2 linked regions of the Homo sapiens genome follow. The protein of the gene in region 2 purifies or fractionates together with the protein of the main gene of each other region. This does not show direct contact. Each region holds a gene or a part of one and is shown on either strand. Other genes may lie near its edges. The genes, in order: MTMR12 and AVL9.

Evidence for each region.
Region 1: the proteins of AVL9 (region 2) and MTMR12 fractionate together in Homo sapiens (co-fractionation; one large-scale study listed by BioGRID). This does not show direct contact.

What each region holds. Positions count from the first base shown.
Region 1 is NC_000005.10:32,310,038-32,314,645, forward strand, and holds the start of MTMR12 (myotubularin-related protein 12), read right to left. Parts: upstream 2,903-4,608; 5' UTR 2,802-2,902; coding exon 2,721-2,801; intron 1-2,720. UniProt on the Homo sapiens protein: Acts as an adapter for the myotubularin-related phosphatases. Regulates phosphatase MTM1 protein stability and possibly its intracellular location. By stabilizing MTM1 protein levels, required for skeletal muscle maintenance but not for myogenesis.
Region 2 is NC_000007.14:32,557,808-32,561,619, reverse strand, and holds part of AVL9 (late secretory pathway protein AVL9 homolog), read right to left. Parts: intron 3,062-3,812; coding exon 2,992-3,061; intron 2,692-2,991; coding exon 2,156-2,691; intron 1-2,155. UniProt on the Homo sapiens protein: Functions in cell migration.

The sequences.
Region 1 (4,608 bases), on a different chromosome or scaffold from region 2:
GGCACGGTGGCTTACGCCTACAATCCCAGCACTTTGGGAGGCTGAGGCAGGAGGATTGCTTGAGCCCAGGAGTTTGAGAGCAGCCTGGGCAAAGACAGCAAGACATCACCTCTACTAAAAATTTTAAAATTAGCCAGGTGCTCTGGCATGCACCTGTAGTCCCAGCTACTTGGGAAAATGGCTTGAGTACAGGAGGTGGAGGCTACAGTGAGCTGTGATCACGCCACTGTACTTCAACCTAAGCGACAAAGCAAGATCCTGTCTCTAAAAAAGGAAGAAAGGAAATCAGTACATGGAAGAGAAATCTGCACTCCCATGTTTATTACAACACTATTCACCACAGCCAAGATTTGGAAGCAACCAAAGTGTCCATCATCAACAAATGAATAGATAAAGAAAATGTGGTACATACACACGAGTACTATTCAGCCATAAAAAAGAATAAGATCCTGTCATTTGTAACAATGAACAGAACTGGAGGTCATTATGTTAAGTGAACTACGCCAGGCGCAGAAAGACAAACTTTGCACGTCCTCACTTATTTGTGGGAGCTAAAAATTAAAACATTTGAACTCATGGAGACAGAATGATGGTTACCAAAAGCTGGGAAGGGTAGCAGGGGAAAGGGAAGTGGGGATGTTTAATGGGTACAAAAACACAGTTAGAATAAGATCTAGTAAGTGATAGCACAACAGGGTGACTACAGTCAACAATAATTGTATATTTTATAATAACTTAAAGAGTATAATTGGATAGTGTGTAACACAAAGGAAGGATAAATGCTTGCAGTGATGGATACCCCATTCATGCATTGTATGCCTGTATCCAAAGATTTCTTTCTTTTTTTTTTTTTTGAGATGGAGTCTCGCTCTGTCGCCCAAGCTGTAGTGCAGTGGCGCGATCTCGGCTCACTGCAACCTCTGCCTCCTGGGTTCAAGCGATTCTCCTGCCTCAGCCTCCCAAGTAGCTGGGATTACAGGTGCGCACCACCATGCCTGGCTAATTTTAGGGTTTCACCATGTTGGCCAGGCTGGTCTCCAACTTCTGACCTCAGGTGATCCACCCACCTCAGCCGGCCCAAAGTGCTGGGATTACAGGTGTCAGCCACCATGCCCAGCCCAAATATTTCATGTATCCCATTAAATATATACACCTACTATACCCACAAAAATTTTTTAAATGTTTAAATGTTTTAAAAAGACACAAAGAGAAATTGACCACATTGCTTAAATGTGATACCACAAGGGAAGCCCGCTGAAACTTTAAGATGACCCTGACTCCACATCAAGTGCTAACAGAGGAAATGGTTTGTATTTTACAACTAGGACTAAAAATAAGACCCATTTTAAGAGCACTTTCCCCTGGAGAAAACACACATATCTTGAATTTAAAGATACATATGCAAATGCCTCAGGCCCCAGGTGGTCTTTACGGAAGCAGTCCCTGATCAGATCTCTCATCCACAGCCCACGTGCTTCTGCATTACAGAGGTGGGAAGACATCTGCAACAAATTTGGCGGTGCTTCTGCACTTCTGCTGGAGAGAAGGGCAGAAAAAAACCTTTACAGATGCAAAACAAGAAGGCTTCTCATTAGGCATTTGGATTAAGAACTATTGCTCAAGAAGCCCTGAGCAAGGCCTACAAGTTCTGATCTCTCTAACCTCCTCTCCTATGACTGTCCCCCTTGTCCATGGGCCTCTGCCATGCTGGCTTCCTTGACGCTCCGCCAACCCTTCAGACACACTCCCACCTCACGACCTTCCCGGGGGCTGTTCCCTCTACCTGGACGACTCTTCTCTCAGACCTCTCGTATCTTCAAGTCTCGGCTCAAATGCCACCTTTGCGAGGAGGAAAAAGATTTCTTTTCTTTCCCATGATATTTATCACCTCCTACTACACCGTATAATTTACTTAATTATCTATAATTCACCCCGTTTCTCCTTTCCCCCTCAAATAAGCTCCAGGAATGCAGAGATCTCTGTCCTGTTCACTGATGTCTATCACAAGCACTTAGTGCCTGACACACAGTAGGAGCTCGAGAAGTATTTTCTGAATGAATGAACAAATTTCTTGACCTGAAGATTCAGAAGAGTAAGAAGTGGGTGGAAAGGATGATGGTGAGGGGATGAGGAGAAAGAAGCGACAGCGGAGAATTCCCAAGGGAGAGACAAGCAGAGACTGGCTGAGGCCAGGCCGACCCCCTTTTCTCCCCGCAGCGCTGACGGGAGGCGGACGTAGGTGCAGGGCATCCCGCCAGCCGCACCCGAGGCACTCAGACGCAGGCAGCGGAGGCCGGCGGGCTTCTGGGCTCACTGAGAAAGTCCAGAGGCAGGACGGACCCACGCGGGCTCCGAGCAGGCCCCGTTGGGGGCTCCGACCCACGGCCCTACCCCTCCCAGCAGTGCCCACAACCCCAGGTCCTCTCCAGAATCCCCAGGGGCGTTCCGGGCCGCAATCCCTTCTCGGCTCGGGCCCCTCCACCAGCCTCCAGCGCTCGGGCCCTGCGCTCAGGCACCTGCCTGCCTGCGCCGGGGTCCCCATTCCGGCCCGCGCGGAGGCCCCAGCGCGCTCCTGCGGCCTCAGCCCGCCTGGCTGCCCCGTCGCCCGGCACAAGGGCAGGAAGCGCTCCGCGGCGCTCCCCGCTGCAAGGAAGGGGCTCCCGGCGCCCCTCGCCCCGGCCGCCCCTGCCCGACGCCCCGCCTGCGCGGCGCCCCCTCACCTCAGGGCGTACGTACGACACGAAGGAGGGCTTGGGGGCCTTGGTGCCGCCGCCACCGCCGACTACTCCTTTCCCCAGCATACCGCCGCCCTGGGAAGCAGCGACGCGCGGACGCAGAGGCGGCGGCTCGGGCTCCAGCTGGGGCAGCAGCGGCGGCCACCAGCACTAGCGGCTGGGGCTCCGCCCATCCCCAAGGCCGCGACCGCCGCGATGCCGCCCGCATCCGGCTCCGCCGCTGACACCGCTCGCCCCGCCCAGGCCCGTGGGCCCCGCCCATCCCGTGCGCGGGCCCAGAGAGCCGGGAGACCGCAACTGGAGGCCACGCCCCCCCATCACGTCAGGAGAGTTTGACCCGCCGAGATTCACCACCTTCCTGCGGCAGAGCCCGCCCTCATGCTTTCTCTGATTGGCCCGAGGCGCTGCCGGCCGAACCCCGCTCCCAACCCATTCTTGAGTGCACTTGGAGAGATGTTTCCTCCAACCAATCCAGAGAGCGTTCTCTCCGGACTTTCCAACGATTGGATGGCGAGGATAAAACCGTCGTCCAATGATCCTGCAGTCACCAAGTTGTCGTTAGCAGGGGTTCACGGCAGTCGTTTTCTTCCGTTTGCTTGTGTCTTTGGAATAAAACGTCCAAAAATGGGATGTATGGAATCTTGCTATAGGAGTTCCCAACTTACAGCGATGACGTTCAAGGTTTTTTATTTTATTATTATTTACTTTTGAGACGGAGTTTTGCTCTTGTCGCCCAGGCTGGAGTGCAATGGCGCGATCTCTGCTCATTGCAACCTCCGTCTCCCAGGTTCAAGCGATTCTCTTGCCTCAGCCTCCTGAGTAGCTGGGATTACAGGCGCCCGCCACTATATCCAGCTAATTTTGTGTGTGTGTGTGTGTGTGTGTGTGTGTGTCGTTCTGTCGCCCAGGCTTGAGTGCAATGGCGTAGTATAGGCTCACTGCAACCTCTGCCTCCCAGGTTCAAGCGATTCTCCTGCCTCAGCCTCCCGAGTAGCTGGGATTATAGGCGCCTGCCATCACACCCGGCTAATTTTTGTATTTTTAGTAGAGACGGGGTTTCACCATGTTGGCCAGGCTAGTCTCAAACCCCTAACCTCGTGATCCGCCCGCCTCAGCCTCCCAAAGTGTTGGGATTAGAGGCATGAGCCACCGCGCCATGCCGCTAATTTTTGTATTTTTAATGGAGACGGGGGTTTCACCATGTTGGCCAGGCTGGTCTCAAACTCCTGACTTCAGATGATCCACCCGCTTCGGCCTCCCGAAGTGCTGGGATTACAGGCGTGAGCCACCGCGCCCGACCTCAAGGTTTATTATTTTAAATGTAAACAAAAATGAGACAAACGATGACTCACGCCTCTAATCCCAGCACTTTGGGAGGCCGAGGCGGGTGGATCATCTGAAGTCAGGAGTTTGAGACCAGCCTGGCCAACATGGAGAAACCCTATCTCTACTAAAAATACAAAAATTAGCCTGGTGTGGTGGCGGGCGCCTGTAATCCCAGCTACTCGGGAGGCTGAGGCACGAGAATCGCTTGAACCAAGGTTGCAGTGAGCCAGGATCGCGCCACTGCACTCCAGCCTGGGTGGCAGAGCAAGACTGTGTCTCAAACAGAAAAAAAAAAGTGTCAAATCAAGTGTTAACAAGGCAGTGAGGAATAAGTTTGAGCGTTTGATAATAAAAGACTTTGTCAACTTCATTTTTCCAAACCTTTCCCTTCTTTGTGTTTCCAACAGGAAGAATATCAAGAGCCCTTAAGAGACTTCTATTTACTCTACGAAGTTATTGATAAAACCCTCATTTTTTAGTCAAGATTGCAAAGAAAATTCATTTCAGTTCTACATTTGGTGCCAAGCGTTGTTAGTTGCAGATAAAT
Region 2 (3,812 bases):
ATGGTAAGAAAGTGAAACAACAGCCTTATTGCTGATATGCAGAAAGTTTGAGTGGTCTGGATAGAAGATCAAACCAAACAGAACATTCCCTTAAGCCAAAGCCTAATCTAGAGCAAGGCCTTAACTCTCTTCGATTATATGAAAGCTGAGAGAGCTGAGAAGATGCAGAAGTATGAAGCCAGCAGAGTTAGCTCACAATGTTTAAGAAGCCGTCTCTATAACATAAAAGTGCAAGGTGAAGCAGCAAGTGCTGATGAAGAAGCTGTAGCAAGTTATTCAGAAGATCTAGCTAAGGTCATTGATGAAGGTGATTACAGATTTTGAATACAACAGATTTTCAATAAAGACAAAACAGCTTTCTATTGGAAGAAGATGCCATCTAGGACTTTTGTAGGTAGGGAAGAAGTCAATGCCTGGCTTTAAAGCTTCAAAGGACAAGCTGACTCTTACTGGGGGCTAATGCAGCTGGTGACTTTAAGTTGAAGCCAGTGATGATTTACCATTCCCCAAATCCTAGGGCCCTTCAGAGTTATGCTAAATCTGCTGCCTGTGCTCTAGAATGGAAAAACAAAGCCTGGATGACAGCACATCTCTTTACAGCATGGTTTACTGTATATTTAAGGCCACTGTTGAGACCTACTACTCAGAAGAAAATAAAAAAAGATTCCTTTCACAATATTACTGCTCATTGACAATGCACCTGGTCATCTAAGGGCTCTAATGAAGATGTACAAGGAGATTAATGTTTTTCATGCTTAGGAACACAACGTTCATTTTGGAGCCCATGGATCAAGGAGTCATTTTGACTTTCAAATCTTATTATTTAAGAAACACATTTCATAAGGCTATAGCTGCCATGGATAGTGATTCCTTTGATGGATCTGGGCAAAGTAAATTGAAAGTCTTCTGGAAAAGATTCATTACTCTAGATGCCATTAAGAACATCTGTGATTCACAGGAGGAGGTCAAAATATCAATATTAACAGGAGTTTGGAGGAAGTTGATACCCCTGTCATGAATAACTTTGGGGGGTTCAAGACCTTGGGGGAGATTTGGTGGAAACAGCAAGAAAATTAGAATTAGAAGTGGAATCTGAAAATGTGACTGAATTGCTGCAAACTACTGATAAAAACTTGAACGGATGAGGAGCTGCTTCTTAGGGATGAATAAGGAGAGTGGTTTCTTGTGATGGAGTCTGCTCCTAGTGAAGAAGATGTGGTGAATGTTGTTGAAATGACAACAAAGGATTTTTATTCATTTATATTTAAATAAATTAAAAATTATTTAATAATTAATTGTACTTCACTTTATTGTGCTTTTAACATTATTATTTAAGTTTTATTCACTTTGTTGTTTTTTTAAAATAATTATTAAATTTTAAATAATAAACATTTATTATTTAAAAAATAATAGAGTCTCCCTCTGTCACCCAGTCTGGAGTACAGTGGTGTGATCACAGCTCACTTTAGCCTCAACCTCCAGGGCTCAACCAAGCCTCCTAATCTCAGCCTCCCAAGCAGCTGGGACCACAGGCGCGAGTTACCACATCTGGCTAATCAAACTCCTGGCCTCAAGTGATCCTCCTGCCTCAGCCTCCCAAAGTTTTGGGATTATAGGCATGAGCTACTGTGCCCGGCCTAAAGTATTTTTAAATTAAGATATGTACATTAAAAAAAAGACATAATGCTACAGCGCACTTAATAGACTACAGTATAGTGTAAACATAACTTTTATATGCACTTGGAAACAAAAAAATTCCTGAGACTCGCTTTATCACAGTGTTCTGTAACTGAACCATAGTATCTCTGAGGTGTGCCTGTATTTATTGAGTGCAATCAAGGCTGTCTGGACTTCCTTAATTCTGTTTTTAAGGAGAAACCTGAATAATTAAAAATAGACCCAAGAGAGTGATTGTGCATATGACTCATATCTACTAAGTTTCAAAACATTTACCAATCAAAATCCCCTATATACTTCCCCATAGACTTATACTATGGTCACGGATGCCACAGTACTATGTATTTGGTTGTACTTTACAGTTTTCAAGGAAATTTTTCCACCTGAAAATGTGTTGAATACCAAAAGTTCAAAAGTTAAACTCCGAAAGGATTTTTCAAATTCTTTAAGGAATTCGATAAAAAATATTACACTTTACCTTTGTGAAGATGGCCAGGGGCATGCCATACTGATCCTCTTCCAAACCCGAAATGAGCCCTGGTATCAGGACTACCTGTCCCGTATTAGCTTGAGGTTGTACAGTAATTGGAAGACTCTCTGAGGGGACAGAGTCCTTTGGAAACAAATTTGTCTGGTCTGATCCCAGCTGTTCCCTTTCTTTCAAGTTGGGGTCCTCTAAGACACTAGGATCCAAAGTTTCCCAGTCACTTTCTGAAGAATCTGGAGATGGGCGAGATGGAGGTTTCAAATATTGATTGGTATCATTGGGTTCCTGCCCTTTGCTGCTGTCTTCCACTTGGAACAAAGGCTCCTCAGTCTTCATGGCAGCATCTTCTCCATGGTTTCCTGCCATGACTTTCCTGATAGTTCCCAAGTTGGTATGTGAAACATCAGCAGTGGATGCAGAAACAAAATCATCTGCACATGGGTTACTTTCCTGAAGCCCACCATCTTCAGACATACTTTTCCGGGGTCTATACTGAGAACAGTCACTGAGACCATGTTCAATCATGCCTAAAATATGCAATATCAAAGAACAGCTTGGCTTATAATAATATGGAAGAACCTGAGAGCTATATATTAGTAGACTCCCCTATAAAATTTAATAAGCTATGCTTGTACACATTTTAATTAAAAACAAAAAGAACAGAAAGAAGCCCAGACAAAAGAGAGAAACCTATTTCCAAAAGGAAGACGTCATATTAAAATAGAAAGGATAACCCTAACGAATTTATCTTTGAAACTTTATTTCTAAAAGTTTAGGTTCCAGTACAAGTTAAACAAAAGAAAGAGTAGATACTGCTGTTTTCTTACCTGGAAAAAGGGATAACACAGTCATCAGTGCACCCACCAATTTATTCACTGGAGAAATATAAAAAAGAACCTGGAATGGAGTCAATCAAAATCAAATTAGAAGACCCATGAAGCCGTCCATAATGATAACAAATAAAAAAGAGGGAAAAATTCCTTATATAAGAATAACAGCTGGCCGGGCGCAGTGGCTCATGCCTGTAATCCCAGCACTTTGGGAGGCCGGGGTGGGTGGATCACGAGGTCAGGAGATCGAGACCATCCTGGCCAACATGGTGAAACCCCGTCTCTACTAAAATACAAAAACTTAGCCGGGCATGGTGGCACACGCCTGTGGTCCCAGCTACTCAGGAGGCTGAGGCAGGAGAATCACTTGAACCCAGGAGGCAGAGTTGCAGTGAGCCAAGATCACACCACTGCACTCCAGCCTGGCTAGAGAGCGAGACTCTGTCTCATAAAAAGAAGAATAACAGCTGCTGGGCTTGGTGGCTGGCTCACACCTGTAATCCCAGCACTTTGGGAGGCCAAGGCGGGCAGATAATGAGGTCAGGAGATCGAGACCAGCCTGACCAACATGCTGAAACCCCGTCTCTACTAAAAGTACAAAAATTAGCCAGGCATGGTGGCACACACCTGTAATCCCAGCTACTCAGGAGGCTGAGGCAGGAGAATTGCTTGAACCCGGGAGGTGGAGGTTACAGTGAGCTGAGATTACGCCACTGCACTCCAGCCTGGGCGACAGAGCAAGACTCTGTCTCAAAAAAAAAAAAAAAAAAAAGAGTAACAGCTAATAAACATAGAAGTACTAACAGACAAATCACCAT